Regions from separate parts of the Homo sapiens genome. Here all the other regions are reported to be linked to region 1. The links are microRNA targets in miRTarBase. Many come from high-throughput screens and were not tested one by one. Region 1 holds a microRNA gene; each other region holds the end of a gene's coding sequence.

Region 1 (4,646 bases):
GAGCTACTAAAAATATAAAAAGCAAGATGTCTCAAAAAATATCCCAGGCCAGACCTCTGGTTTGAGGGAAATCAACACATAGGGATGTATTTGGAACCAGGGGAGTAAATAAGATTACTTAGGGAAAACAGCGAATAGGTAAGAAAGCAAAAGACAAGAGTTTTGGGAAAATAATAACCATGGGATAGAAAAAGATGTGGTGGAATGATCCTGATTCTCGTTGGATTTGTGTGGTAGACAGAATGTTTTGGCTACAAATTGCATGTGTTAGCCCCGAGGAGAAAAGGCCTTTTCCAGACAAGTGACAGGCAGGAGGGAAAAGGAGGGAGGCAGTGTGAGAGGGCGGGAAAGCTTAAGCAGGGTAGATAGAATATTAACTCTTGATTGTGAGGCCAGTGGCTTTTCCAGGCCAGAAAGAAAACAGAAGGACAAGGCCCAAATTCCACCAGGTGCCCCTGCAGTTCTCCAGGACGCCACATGGGGACAGCAGGTGGCCGGTCTGTGCAGTACCTGTGTTGGGAGCTGCACACAGGGGCCCCTGGAGGAGGAGCGGCCGAGATGGCTCATTCTTGAGCCTTTTATTTTATTTTATTATTTTTATATTTTATTATTATACTTTAAGTTCTAGCATACATGTGCTTATACCCAAAGGATTATAAATCATGCTGCTATAAAGAGCCTTTTATTTTTGCCTCTTAGTGGACCTAAAAACTCAGTATTGTTTTTGGTCTAATGACTTCACTTCTAGTGAGGTTGTGTTAGTCCGTTTTGCGCTGCTATAAAGACATACCCGAGACTGGGTAATTTATATAGTAAAGAGGTTTATTTGGCTTACAGTTTTGCAGCCGTACAAGCATGGCACTGGTACCTGCTCGGCTCCTGATGAGGCCTCAGGATGTTTTATACATGGTGGAAGGCGGAGAGGGAGCAGACATGTCACATGGCGAGAGAGGGAGCAAGAAAGAAAGAGCAAGAGAGAGGAAGGAGGTGCCAGCTTTTTTAAACAACCGGCTCCCTCTAACTGAGCAGGAACTCGTTAAGTGAGGACATCACCAAGCCATTCACAAGGGATCCGCCCCATCACTCAACCACCCCCACCAGGCCCCACCCCCAATACTGGGGATCACACTTCAACATGAGATTGGAGGGGACAAACATCCAAACCATATCAAAGGTATACTCTAGGATCCTAGTTCAAGTAGCACCTGCTTTTGTTGCTTTGCCTTCTAAACTGAACTGACACATATTAGCACAGTTCTGTCTCAGCCATAGAAACCCAGTTTCTCTGGACCATTTTTCCTTATGTAAGAAAATGACCTGTTTAACCATGGAGGGAACTCCTCAGCCAGCTAAGAGAGGAGAGTTCAGAGATAGCTGGTGCAGCTTCTCATCAACAACAGAATTGACTCCCTCGCTGCTCCTTTCCCATCATCTAAGCCAGTCATCGATTTTCCCCAGGAGTGTTTCTAGGTATCCGTCACCAAAACAAAACCCCCACCAAGTCTATGGAATTTCTATAAAGTATAACCATTCATGATATGCTAATAGTGAACCATTTGTTAGTATTATACCACATGCAATTCAGGTCAGTGAAATTCAACTTAGAAACTGGAAGAAGAAAAATCACCTTTGCATTATTGCTTTGCATTTGTTTTCTTAGTTCTTGTCCATGGCCCCAACGGTCACCAATACATTTCCTCTCAGCAGTCAGCATCATGGTGCTCTTCCCCAATCATTATAACCGATTTCAGATGGTGCTAGAAAATTATATTGACTCTGAACACCAAAAGAAATCAGTCATCCTCTAAGGGGTCACAGAAGGTCGTGAGGGTTGGGAGGGCCCAAATCTTACTAAATCCAGCATACATTGGGCTCTTTAACCCAGGCACAATGGAATGAGTCTGTACTATCTATTAAGTGCTATAGGTTTATTCCACAAAGAAGTATAAAATTCCAACAATGCGATATCCTGTACAATTACATTCATCCCTTGGTATCCTTGAGGGATTGGTTCCAGAAAGCCCCTTGGATACCAAAATCCACAGATGCTCAAGTCTCTGATAGAAAATGGTGTAGTATTTGCATACAACCTACACACATCCTCCCGTATACTTTAAATCGTCTCTAGATTACTTAGAATACTTAATGCAATGCAAATGTATGCAAATAATTGTTATGCAGTATTGTTAGAGAATAATGACAAGAAGAAAGTCTGTTCATGTTCAATACAGACACAACTTATTTTTGGAAAACTTTCGATCACAGTTGGATCCGCCAGTGCAGAGACCTGACTGCCATTTGTGATATATGCCACCACTGTTGGCAGGGGTGAGGAAGGGGTCAGCTACATGTGAGGCAGGTTCTCACAGCCATCCTGCTGTTGCTTTCAAATACTTCAGAGCTGTCCCATTCACTTCTTTTGCTGTTGGTAGTGCAGCGCAGCTGGTCTCCCCCAAGAACACTGATTTCAAATGGTGCTAGACAATCACTATTTAAATCTAAACCACCATATGAAACCAGCTTCCTGAAGAAGCTTTATGATCTATTTTTTTCTTCATAATGCTCTCTTACAATAAACCCAAGACAACCTAGAAAGGAAAAGTTGAAACCTAGCTGTGAGTTACTCAGTGGTCTAAACAGAGCTTTGGCAAATTTCATATATTCATAAACTGATGTCACTGAATTTGTTATTGATGGGAGAGCATGCCTGGGACTCCCTTATTCTTAAGTTAAGTTGCCCAGACAAAGGTTCAGCTTCATCATTTAGAGGCAAGGGCACATGTCAGCCCCGTCACTCTTGGGTGGGAAGACAAGGAAAATCCTTTGCTTGGGTAAAGGCAGGAGAAGTCAGAGGCATCCTGTGATCAAGTACCCAGGCAGGCGGAGGACGACTAGCAGTGGTGCTGGAGAACCGTCCGTCGGACATGCAAATAGGACAAAGCAAGCAAGTGCTCCATAGAAGTTGAAGAAAAACGCTTTCCTAAACCTATTATTTTCACTTGGAGATAACTTGGATCCAAAGGATTACTGAGATTTTGGGGTCTAGGGAAGAAAATAGACTAGCTCAGAGGCCAAGTAAGTCACATAATGGCACTAATGAGATGCTAATGTCGCTTCCGGAATGAATTCCTTAGACTGCATCTATGAGTTAGGGGTTTTTGTGAGCTTTACTTAAGACTCTCCTTCCCTCTACTCCAAAGGTAAGGCTTTGTACTCTGAGTTCTCCTTGGCAAATTATTTTTTGCAGCAGTTCTTTTTCGCCGTCATGGTATAGTTCTTGGTATCATCTTATTAGGTGGCCTGTTGTCGTCCCTTTTTGTGTTCTAGGCATCCAAAAAGATACTTCATGTACCCAGGCCACCTAATTAAAGGGGTGTGCACTGTTTTTATAAACTGTTATAAAAAATTTTATACATTAAATTGGAATGACAATACAATGAATTCCTAAATCCATACTATCTAAATTCAATAACTATTCCTTTTTATCATGTTTTGCTTTAATTATATGTAATATAGATACATATTTTTTGCTGCATTGTTTGAAAGTAAATTGATAACCACCCATACATACACTGCTCCTAACTACTTTGAGGTCGTTCTATAAAATGAAGACACTCTTCTACATAACCACAAAATCTTACCATACCTAAGAAAACAAACAATTCCTTGGTACCCACAAATATCCAGCCTACATCCAACTTCTCCCACTTTCTCCAAACAAAAGGTTTTTTATAGGTTTTTCAAACCCAGATCGCATCAAGGTTGATTCACTAAGACTCTTTGGTCTCTTTTAGCCTCAAAACACTACCCAACCTTTTCTTTGGCTTGTTTTATCATGACATACCACCTTGTGAAAACCAGGCTCCAATCCTGGCTGTACCATTCACTTAGTCTGTTCCCTTGGCTTGTATTTAAGAACTGAACTTTAGTTTCTCCGTCTGACTTTCCTCATATATCATCCTCATTTTACAATCTCACTATGTGTATTAGAAGAACATCCAATTACCACGTGCCTGTGGTTGATGATTCCAAGTGGGTTCAGTGCTAATCAGTCAGGAGGTGCACTGCAGGCTGTTTACCTTGGGTCTGATTAGCATAACATTCTTGTTCCTCATGGGCTTGGCCAGTTATCTTTTCATAAGGAGATCCCAGCACAAACTCATCCTTTATCATCATGGAGAAGCATCCACAGCACATACCTATTGCTGCTAGGCTGGTTTTTAAAAAAAATCTCTGTGAATAAGGGAATAGAACACCAGGGCTATGGAGATGCGTGGCAATCATTTCATCAAAGATGTAAACAGCTTGTTGACTGCAGTGAAAGGCACATACTTTGTGAAGTGACAGGCAGTGACACATTTCAAGTGGATAGTAAATTTAAGCACCAAAACTGGGAAAAGTGCCAGGACAGAAGAATCACTGCAACTCTCAAATAATGGTTTCACTAATTCTGTGATTCCTTTAGGGACCCCCTGCATCCTTCTGTATATGCTACTCTAATTCGCAGTATCAGTGACTGAAGTACAAAAGAAGCAGCCAGATTATTCTCATCAGTTACAAAACTCTAAAGTCTGCTTATTTTTGATAAATAACTAGTCACAGTGTTTGCCTACTGCCTAGAAGTTTTTTCAAATGATTGACACTTC
Region 2 (3,471 bases), not on the chromosome of region 1:
GTGTGTGTTGTGTTAGCTAGGGTGGCGGGGGGGAGTGGGAGGTGACATATTCAGATTTTTATTTCAAATTGATTTCTCTGGCTGTAGTGAGAAGAATGGATCAGAAGAGGGAAAGAGTGCATGCCTGAAAACCTGTCAGAGGCTATTGAAAAAGCTCAGGCGAGACATAATATTCATGTGGACAAGGATAACGGCAGTGGAGATCAAGAGAAGGATATGACCTTAGGGAATATTTAGGGGGCAGAATTAGAAATATTTAAGAAGGACAGTACTCTGGCATGGTCTGAGAGAGAGAGAGAGAGGTGACAAAAATGACTCTCGGGTTTCTGGCCTGCCTAAATGGATGGATAATGACGCTGCTGTCTTTTTTTAAATTTCTGTTAATTTTGAGAATTTTCATTTGTATTTTTTAAATAAATCAACAATAAATGTATGCCACCATCCTCCCCAAATGTAGATTATTTCACTTTTTATAGTGTAGAATTTGAGGTGTCTATGGGACATGAAAGTAAAGAAATCCACTGACAGGTCTAATATATAGGCAAGAAATTTGAGAGCTTTGGAATGGTCTGGGCAGGCTTTTATTGGTAGCATTCCCAAAATCCAAATAAGAACTGTTATTTCTATAGTTGGAAATTGTTAGTGTTTGTGACTTAATAGTATTACCACATATTTCTGATTCATCTATATGAACTTATATAATCTTATAGTTTGGACTTGGAAGTCAAACAAAACTCACACATGTATTTAGGCATATAAATACTCAAATTTAAGATATACAGGTCAAAATATAACCAGTTTAGGGGAAAATGATGTTGTAAACTAAATATTGAGAATGAAACTGAAAACAATTAGGCTAAATTCATATGTGATACACTTTGAGACATATGTTTTATTATTACAGTTTATTCAGTCATGAAAAATCTATTGCTTGCCCTTTTTATCAATAATACTACTCTGACATTTTTAAGGGCAGAGGCAGTGATAATTGGTGTCATGTTGCCTTTGTGGGTAATGTTGTAGATAGATTTTCATTTATAAGCCAGTACATACATGATAGAAGGTATCCGTTGTATCTTTTAAACAAATGGCAAACAAAGTATACCACCACATCTCCTTTTCACTATTGGAAATGAAATAGATCTAATATGGTCAAAGGAATTTCACAAAACAAAAACCACTGACATGACAAAAGCGTGCATTTAATTTGATGCTTTGCAGAGATACATGACCAAAGTTGTATGCATGGCTTGTCTTTTGGGATGGTCCCAGCTGTTTATTTTAAAAGAAAAAAATTAAAATAGAGCCAACAAATGCAATTAAGAAAAAAAAAGTATTGAGACACAAGGGGACCTACATGTTCTGGTCTAAGAAGCATGCAAGTATTACAAAGCATTCCAGATACAGTATGACAGAGGAACAGTGAACAAGCATTGGAACGATGCTCTTTCTTTCAGAAACGGGAAGTCTAACAGTTATGTTTTCACAATGGTAGTGATTAAACCATCTTTATTTTTAAGGAATTTTATAGGAAGAATTTTAGCACCATCATTAAAGGAAAAATAATAATACCTTTTTAGCCCTGCCTATCTCCAGTCTTGGAATAATAACAGAAGCATAGCACCTTTCAGTATCTAAAATATAAACAAGAATAGTAAGTCCATCCCAGCTTCTAGAGATGAGGTAGCTCATGCTAAGAAATGTTGGGTCATTTTTCCTATGAAAGTTCAAAGGCCAAATGGTCTAATTCCAATCATCACATTTGATTAGAGTCAGCTCCACAACTCAGTTTCTAGATCTTTTTCTTCATTATAGGCTTCAGGATGATGAGATTGTACATGTGGAAGAGTCTCAATTTAGAGTCCTTGGACATATGTTTGTAAAGTTCTATATGTCAATTATTTTGCATTCAATATCTTCTTAAATAAGAAAGTGTAAATGTATTAAATGGTATATACTAGTGTGACTTCTATCAATATTGATAGATTGATCAAGAGGAGAAAGATATCTTTAAATTTGAATGAGAAAGATGTCTAAACTTATAGTCTTTTACAAAAATTTAAGAAGTCGAAGTAAATTCACTTTGTTCTCCAAAATGCCACTGAATATATACTATTTAAAAATTCTATTTAAGACAGTGAGAAACGTTTTTTTTTTTTTAAGATTCTCCTTAAAGAGTCTCTATTATAGTTACACAATATCAAGACATGCATGTAGGTCTCGATCACAAGTTAAACATTTTAAACTCATTTTTAATTGACAATCTTGGAATGAGAGGTCACAAAAGGGCACTAATTTCTATTTTTCAACTGCAGCCAAGCAAAATAAACATGTGTTGTGGCTCTATATACCCCACTCTTTAAGCTACCTGCCAGGAAGAAGAATTTCCTCATAAATACTAAGCAACTTTTTCATTACACTGAAATAAATTGAAGAAAACGGAGATTTATTTATTCAATCAGTTTACTTTCTGCAAAGGTGGTCATTGTCATTGGTCATCTTAAACCTAAACTGTTGTATTGAAAAATATTTAAAATCAATTAAAACTTGAGGATTGTAAGTAAAATAAATATTCTGAAGGATAAGGAGGCCAGGCACTTAAGACCATATATACAATGCTGATGCAGGATCAGCCATTACTTCAAGAGTCTCAGGATCAACTTCAAACAGTCAAAGTTCTTGTGAATGGCGGTGGTCATTGATGGTGGTGCTCATTGTCGATGTGTCTTGGCTTACTTTACACAAAACAAACTGGCCCAATTTCAACGCCGAATTCCTGGTCTGTGCCGCCAACATCCACAGGAGCAAGATCTATGATGGGCAAGCGTGCCACATTCTGTGTTCTATATTCAAAGACAGTCTTGCCCACATTTCCATTCCGCTTCTGAAATTAAATGATGCAATGGGTTAAATGTACATACAATTTTTTCCAAGTATGTTAGACAGCAACCTTCCCAGACACTTTTATAATGTAAAGGCAATGATTTTTAGAGTACTACTTAAAAAAAAGGAATGAAAACATAAAGTGAAATATTAGTGTACTTATGTAACAGAATTTCTTTCATGCTTTAAGTAAATTTCCTTTGTTCTTCTGCAGCTTCCCAAATGGTCACTAGCAACATAAATTATGAAAGCTTTTTTGTTTTTCACAAATGAAACTATAATTCACCATTTAGTATTATTTTCGTTTTATATCTCAATATGCAAGCGGGGAGACTTACTTACAAATTGGTGGAAAAAATAAAGTATCTTGGATTAATTACGCATTTTAGAAATAAGGAATTTTAAGCATGGGACTGAGATTCAGTAAGTTAAATAACTTGGAAAAGAACCAAAGAAAGTCTGCAGAAGAACTGGATCAGATCTTAGGGATCCAGTTCTTTCTTTACTATATGGATTCAAACCTCTATCATGCTTCATGTGCTAACACACACACATTTACCCTAAGGAATGACTATAAACAAACTGCTA
Region 3 (3,471 bases), not on the chromosome of region 1:
TCCTTTCCATGTGGCTGCTCCCGGGATGGCTGTGGGAACATGGCAGGACGCATTGAATTTAATCCAATCCGGGTCCGGACTCATTACCTCCACACCATTATGAAGCTGGAGCTGGAGAGCAAGCGGCAGGTGAGCCGCCCAGCAGCCCCAGATGAGGAGCCCTCCCCGACTGCCAGTTGCAGCCTGACAGGAGCACAGGGCTCTGAGACCCAGGACTTCCAGGAGTTCATTGCTGAGAATGAGACAGCAGTGATGCACCTGCAGAGTGCAGAGGAACTGGAGCGGCTCAAGGCAGAAGAAGATTCCAGCGGCTCTAGTGCCAGCCTGGACTCGAGCATCGAGAGCCTGGGTGTGTGCATCCTAGAGGAGCCTCTGGCTGTCCCCGAAGAGCTGTGCCCAGGCCTTACAGCCCCCATTCTCATCCAGGCTCAGCTGCCCCCAGGCTCCTCTGTCCTGTGTTTTACCGAGAACTCAGACCACCCAACTGCCTCAACGGTGAACAGCCCATCCTACTTGAACAGTGGGCCCCTGGTCTATTATCAAGTGGAGCAGAGGCCAGTCTTGGGAGTGAAAGGAGAGCCTGGTACGGAAGAAGGCTCAGCCTCTTTCCCAAAGGAGAAGGATCTGAATGTCTTCTCTCTCCCTGTTACCTCACTCGTGGCTTGTAGCTCCACAGACCCAGCTGCCCTCTGTAAATCAGAGGTGGGGAAAACACCCACCCTAGAAGCTCTATTGCCCGAAGATTGTAACCCTGAGGAGCCTGAAAATGAAGACTTCCACCCTTCCTGGTCCCCCTCAAGCCTCCCCTTCCGCACGGACAATGAAGAGGGCTGTGGGATGGTGAAGACCTCCCAGCAGAATGAGGATCGGCCCCCTGAAGATTCTTCCTTAGAACTCCCTCTGGCAGTGTGACAGGCGCTAGAGGTCCTGCCTCTTACCCATTCTCTATTTATTCCCTTATTTTATCTAACACCATTTCAAAACAAAACTGTAGAAGCAGCTGCTGCTCCCATGTTATTTTATTGGGGTCTTTGGGGAATGGGTGGGAAAGGATTGTTTGAGTATTTTTTAAAAGGGAAACAGTACCAAGGAGACCAGCCCTACCTTGATCTGGGGATAGTCTTGGGGCAAAGAAAGCTGCGTAGTGCTGAACATTAAGCTTTCTGGGCCACTGGAACAAAGAACTAGGATCTCACAGGAAAAGCTGGGTAACTCAAGCAGCTATTCTTTCTGTAGGGACCAGAACACGAGAATTTGAAGAGCATGGCAAAGCCCTTTCTCTCCCAAGCCCCAGGCAGAGTACAAGCTCATTTTTCTCGGTGGTTATTCTGATATCCCATTTTGGTGTGTCATAATACTTCAAACTGGAAAGTCACCTGGTCGAGTCTAGGGAGGAGGGAGTGGAAGGGTCTCTGCTTCTGTACAAAATCTCCAGGATTTACAAAAATGTAACCTGCCTTCCTTCAATCCCATATTTGGTAAATAAGTTAATATTTGACATGTTTGGTGTTCTCTGACCTGTTCCCCACACTGGGGATTCCTGGTCTGTAACTTGAATTGTTTCTTCCACATGTTCTTAAGTACTAGAGTTAAACTTGTCTATGTGTCTTTTTTCTCTCCATCCTTTTTCCTTCGGAGAAAGAGCTGGATTGGCTGGGGATATGGTATAACGAGCCTGAGCCTTCTGTACGTGTCTGACACTAGCACTGTCAGGCAGCTTTCGGCTGGGGCTCACCCATCCCATAGGAGGCCTATGTGGAGCATTAACTGTGGCCAAAGGAGGCAGCGGGAACAGGCTGCTTGCTATCTGGAAAGATGACATATTTGTGCCATGCTTGTTTTTTCACCCAGGTTTTTCCCTCTTTGTGAGATCTGAGCTTTAGTGGAATGTAGAATGTGGCAATCTTAAGGTCACCAATCAGTTTTTGTTCTTTTTTCCTGGATCTACCCTCATGGTCGTTTTCAACATAGCGGGTTAGAGTTCTTATACTGTTCCAGTTCAATTCCAAGAATTGCAAATGTTTATTGGACCCCTCCATCTTGATGATATATAAAAATTGGAAGCCAAACCAGTTCTTAAATGCTACATGCAACTCCCAGATTCCAAAGGATTCAAGTTCTAATTATAACCTTTGAAGCGTATAGAATGGAACTCATTCAGTTTGATTCAGTTCTTACCTCTGTCAGGAGGAATACAGTTCCTGTTCATCCTGTGTTCTAAGATCTCCATTGAACAGCACTGATTTCCTTTCATTAGCAAAGTGATCTTTGTCTCTGTTCTAAAATGGAGGCAGTAGGGAGCAAAACTATTCTTCTCAAGCATCCTTTACACCATACTTTACTTCTGGTATGGTTTATTAACCACACACACACACAAAAGTGAAAAACTGTGTTGGGGGGGAGACACTACTCCTACTTATCTTGCTCATAAAGCCTTTTCTGGTGGGATATTAAGGCCCTGGTGTCTTACAGAAACCATCACGTATGTCGCAGCAGCATTTCACCCCTGAAGTCTCTAAACTCTGAGCCTGAAAAGATTTGTATTTAATACACATAACATTTTTTAGTTCATTCTGCCTTTCCTATTTGTTCCAGTTTTTGCTTGGTTTTAGTTTGGAGGGGAACTTAAGTACACAGATCCTTATCTCTCCCCATCCCCTAGCCTCACAAAACACAGTTGAGAGTCTTTTAAGTACCTGAGCTCTCGAAGCTACCCAGAACTGAACTAGACTCCCCTACCTTAGACTGGTACCCTCAAACACAGGACTGAAGCTTAATTGGGAATTTGGCTTTATGGAGAAAAGAATCTTTTTCAAAGTTTGTGTCGGAAGGGGAGGGTGAGGTTTGCCCACTGTCTCTGCAGGAAGGCTCCGGCTTAATCTAGGAAGTAGATTCCAGCTGCACGATGAGGAACACATTAGCTTTTGGGATCAAACCAGGAATATGAATCTGTAATTATTAAGCTCATTGCCAACCCACAAGATATGTTTCTGAAAACCTGTAGTTTCTTAATTTAAGTCCATCCCCTTCATTAACGCTACAGTTGTGACTCACACTGATCCCAAACTTTTAAGTGCTAAATATTAACATTTAGCATTAACTGTCTTGTCAAGCGAAAGGCCTTCTCTACAACCTAGTCCATCTCACTTCTGGTGCTACCTGAGTTGGACAGAATTCTAGCTCATGGTTGCTAGGAAAGCTAGGCCTCTGATCATAGAAGCAGATAGCTTCAGTCCCAGTCTAGGCCTAGATAAATGACTCTTATTACCACAACCCTTATTATTTTCCAATTTCCTTTCTCACATACTGTACACAGGTAGTATTTTCAATGTGAATCCAAAGCTTGTCTGGTTCTCTGAAAATAATTTTTTCCCCTTTAGGTTCTTTACATTGTGATAATGCTGTATTTAAAGAGAATATTTAAATGTAATATTAAAGAAATATTCAAAAGAATGATGTGTTACTCTTTGT
Region 4 (3,471 bases), not on the chromosome of region 1:
CCCATGGTAGCTGCACCGTTTTACATCCCCACAACAGTGCGAAAGGATACTGTGTGATTTCACTTATATGAGGTATCTGAAACAGTCAAAGTGGAAAATAGAATGGTAGTTGCCAGGGGATGGGAGGTAGGGGGAAATGGAGATAAAATTTCATTTTTAGTAGATGAATATGTTCTAGAGATCTACTGTACAACATAATGCCTAAAATTAATAATACAGTATTGTGCACTTAAAAATTTGTTGATAATATTTCATATTAAATGTTCTTACCATGAAAAACTAAAATAAATGAACACAAGGAAACTTTTGGAGGTGATGGATATATTTAATATCTTGACTGTGCCAGTGATATCATGGGTGTATGCATATTTCCAAAATCATGAAATCGTATATGTTAAACACTTTGTATGACAGATGCATCCGACAGCATTAACTCAAGCATACCCTGAGAATGACTGTATGGTCTAAGAAGAATATGTGTTCAGAGTCTAAGCTAAGGAATCCGGGAATGGCCAACCCAGAGAGATTCACTTCTTATCTGTGAAGGACACTTGAACTCCCTGCCTGTCCGTTGGAACTCAGGATGTGCAAGGAACCAAGGCCTTTTATTTTGGGTTAAATGGAGGTTGCTAAGTGGAGAGTGCTAAGTAGAAATGTTATATAAACTACATACTCTTTACAAATAGTAGCGGTCCTGTCCAGCCCACTGCCACTGGACCACATCTGTATTTAAGTCCTAAATAAACCCTATGTCCCATTCACTGGCTCTGGGTCTCTTCTTGGACAAGGCGCCATCCCTGTTGGAATCAATAGGGCTCCAGCATGACACATGTGCAGGATTTTTTAAATTATATCAATTATATCTCAATAAAGCTGTTGAAATTTTTAAAGGGCCTGACCTGTCCTGGAATGGGGAAAAACTTAATGTGACAAAAATGTAGGTTATAGTGAAGGGAACAGGAAATGGTACTGGGACCATTTTTACTCCAGCTAAAAAATTTGAATTTAAGAAATTTGGATATAGATAGGAAGGAGCTAATGTTAAGCAGGAAGTAAGTTGATAAGAGTTTTCTGTTAAATGTGATGGCAAAGCGGTAGGTGAGTATGGGCTCCAGTGGGACAGAACTTGTGGCAGAGAAACCAGGTCAAAAGTTAAAGTTGGATTTGGTGAGTAATTAAAGAGAGTAGTAGCATTTCCAAGACAGAAATTAATGAGCTTTGCTTACATGAAAAGATTAAGAGGATAAGCTTAAGAACAATAAGTACCATAAAAATGGGTGGCAATGATGATACATTAGGGGTGGAGGACCTAGGGTCATAAGGTTGCCCGTGGCGACTTGGAGTGAAGTGTTGAGATGATATGCCCATTTCATGGGGAGAAGTAGAAAGAACAGAAAAACCACTTTTACTTTAGTTCTGGTGTAACTATGAAGAAAAAAAAGCCTAATTGAGGACAAGAATAGACCTCGTTTCTATGGGCAACAGGCATATTCTGCTCCCTATTTCATTATTTCGCTTAAAAAACACTTGGTGAAGACTTGATGCAGATTGTCCTCTTGGAATCTCTGATCCTGATGTTTATTTAAGTGGCAGAGTGGTGGCTTTTCCATGGTATATAGTCAGATTCTTTTTTTTTTTTTTTTGAGGTGGAGTCTCACGCTGTTGCCCAGGCTGGAGTGCAGTGTTGAGATCTTGGCTCAATGCAATCTCCACCTCACAGGTAGCTGGGACTACAGGCACCTGCCACCACGCCTGGCTAATTTTTGTATTTTTAGTAGAGATGGGGTTTCACCATATTGGTCAGGCTGGTCTTGAACTCCTGACCTTGTGACCGCCCGCCTCAGCCTCCCAAAGTGTTGGGATTATAGTCGTGAGCCACCGTGCCCGTCCTAGAGTCAGATTTTAAATCTTCAAATATTCAAGACCGGTTTATTAGCTATTTGAGGTTGTGAACGCTTCTCCTTCCTTACAAGTGCAAAGCCTAACTCATTGAATGTGTGGATTACAAAACAAGAAAACATTAACTTATTGCAACAGAGTCTGGTTTAATTAATAAATCTTTTTGGAAGTTTTCTTTGACAGATCCTACATAAATAAATATAGTTTTAAAAGTGGACTTTTAAACATCAGTTTTTCCTTTCCGTCATGGTTTTCCTACGACAAGGATAAAAGACCCCTCTTCCTTATTTGAAAATTCTCGCAATCAACTAGAACTGAAATTATGAACACCAACTCTGTCAAAACTATACTTTTGTTACTTCTTGGTGAGCAAGAGAAATGAAGAAAACAAAAGAAAATCATGTGCTATTTTAATGTAATTTATCCTATACTTTTTTCAAAAAGTCACACTCACGTCTGCTTGAGAGTTTTAGAGGAATATAATGTATGAAAGAAAATTCCAATAACATAATGTACAAAAATGTTGTCACATACAGAAGAGCAAAAATCTACGTATTGGGGACTATTGCTGTGGGAAGAAGGGCCTGATCTTCATACTCATCTTCCTCATTGAGTACCATGACCCCTTCCAATTCATCCATACTACACCATCATCTGTGCCATGCTTTGCCATGTCCCAGGTGTACTGTCCACCCCAGTAGTATCTGCCGTTTGGATTGGCTGCATGACATCTATTATACCACCATCCACCACCGTCTTCTTTAGAACACTGTTTTCTGGGATCTGATGTTAACCTGAAAGAAAATGTGTTTGGCGTTATTAGAAACAGAACTACGGTGGTCAAGTTACGTTTTGCAGATTACCCATAAAAGACTGCTACACTCGTGTGCACAGTAGTCTTTCCTTTGGGTGCTATACATAGAGTCACACTAATACACCAAAGACCTCCTGTGCCCTATAGCAAGAAAGAGAGATAACTGGGCCTTTGTGGCCAATCCATCTAGGGACTGTGTTTGTTACTTTATACTGGAATAATAGCTTTTACAACCCTTAGTATCAGAGAACCCTGGAAATGAAAATGAAAGTTTTCACACACACTTTAGAATATAGAGATATAGGTATTTATCTAAATGCTCATTATTCAGAAAGTAACTGTGCTCAAATTCTAGTTTTATCTCTGGGTAGTTGTGTGACATTGGACAAATCACGTAATCTCTCTAAATCTCATCTGTAAAATGAGAATAAGAATGTCTACCTTATAGTTGAAATGCTTTCGAGTGATGCATAAAGAGCTTAGGACAGTGGCTGACAGTAAGTGCCCAGGAAGTGGTAGCTATTAAAAATATTGTTAATGATTCTGAGTAATGATATTAGTGTGATTTTTAAAGCAGGAGCAAAGAGTGCCACACATACCAGCCGTCATTGTCTCTGTCATACGTGCTGAAGAACATGCCGTTGTGAATGGTCATGGTCCTGTTTTCTCCCATCAGCTGAGATGCTCCATCCATGAGGGCATTACCGGCTGTTCCTCTGTATTTGTTCACTGAGATCTGGTATTTGTTGGCTTCATTC

Evidence for each region. Region 1 holds the annotated microRNA hsa-miR-29a-3p (UAGCACCAUCUGAAAUCGGUUA, at 1,739-1,760, opposite strand). A microRNA usually pairs through its seed, bases 2 to 8, with sites in the 3' UTR of a target mRNA and lowers its output. Matches are read on the target gene's strand: a 7mer-m8 pairs with bases 2 to 8, a 7mer-A1 pairs with bases 2 to 7 and ends in A, and an 8mer does both.
Region 2: miRTarBase lists COL5A2 as a target of hsa-miR-29a-3p. Seed matches in the 3' UTR shown: 7mer-A1 at 1,619-1,625 and 8mer at 1,541-1,548.
Region 3: the mRNA of CSRNP2 is a reported target of hsa-miR-29a-3p. Seed matches in the 3' UTR shown: 8mer at 3,151-3,158.
Region 4: miRTarBase lists FGB as a target of hsa-miR-29a-3p. The part of its 3' UTR that is shown has no 7-base or 8-base seed match.

What each region holds. Positions count from the first base shown.
Region 1 is chr7:130,875,010-130,879,655 of GRCh38, forward strand. MIR29A (microRNA 29a) reads right to left here and starts at 1,801; the gene lies at 1,738-1,801. MIR29B1 (microRNA 29b-1) reads right to left here and starts at 2,530; the gene lies at 2,450-2,530. It also overlaps a transcript of LINC-PINT not described here. RefSeq lists an enhancer at 261-555 and a silencer at 351-550.
Region 2 is chr2:189,031,333-189,034,803 of GRCh38, forward strand. COL5A2 (collagen type V alpha 2 chain) reads right to left here. Exons shown (of 54, transcript NM_000393.5): 54 at 566-2,884. The coding sequence ends at 2,738. Among named protein-coding and RNA genes, the nearest start is that of MIR3606, 37 kb to the left of the region's middle.
Region 3 is chr12:51,061,187-51,064,657 of GRCh38, reverse strand. It overlaps CSRNP2 (cysteine and serine rich nuclear protein 2), which reads left to right. Exons shown (of 5, transcript NM_030809.3): 5 at 1-3,453. The coding sequence ends at 912. It also overlaps a transcript of LETMD1 not described here. Among named protein-coding and RNA genes, the nearest start is that of LETMD1, 15 kb to the right of the region's middle.
Region 4 is chr4:154,569,641-154,573,111 of GRCh38, reverse strand. FGB (fibrinogen beta chain) reads right to left here. Exons shown (of 8, transcript NM_005141.5): 7 at 3,313-3,471; 8 at 305-2,693. The coding sequence ends at 2,462. Among named protein-coding and RNA genes, the nearest start is that of FGB, 8.4 kb to the right of the region's middle.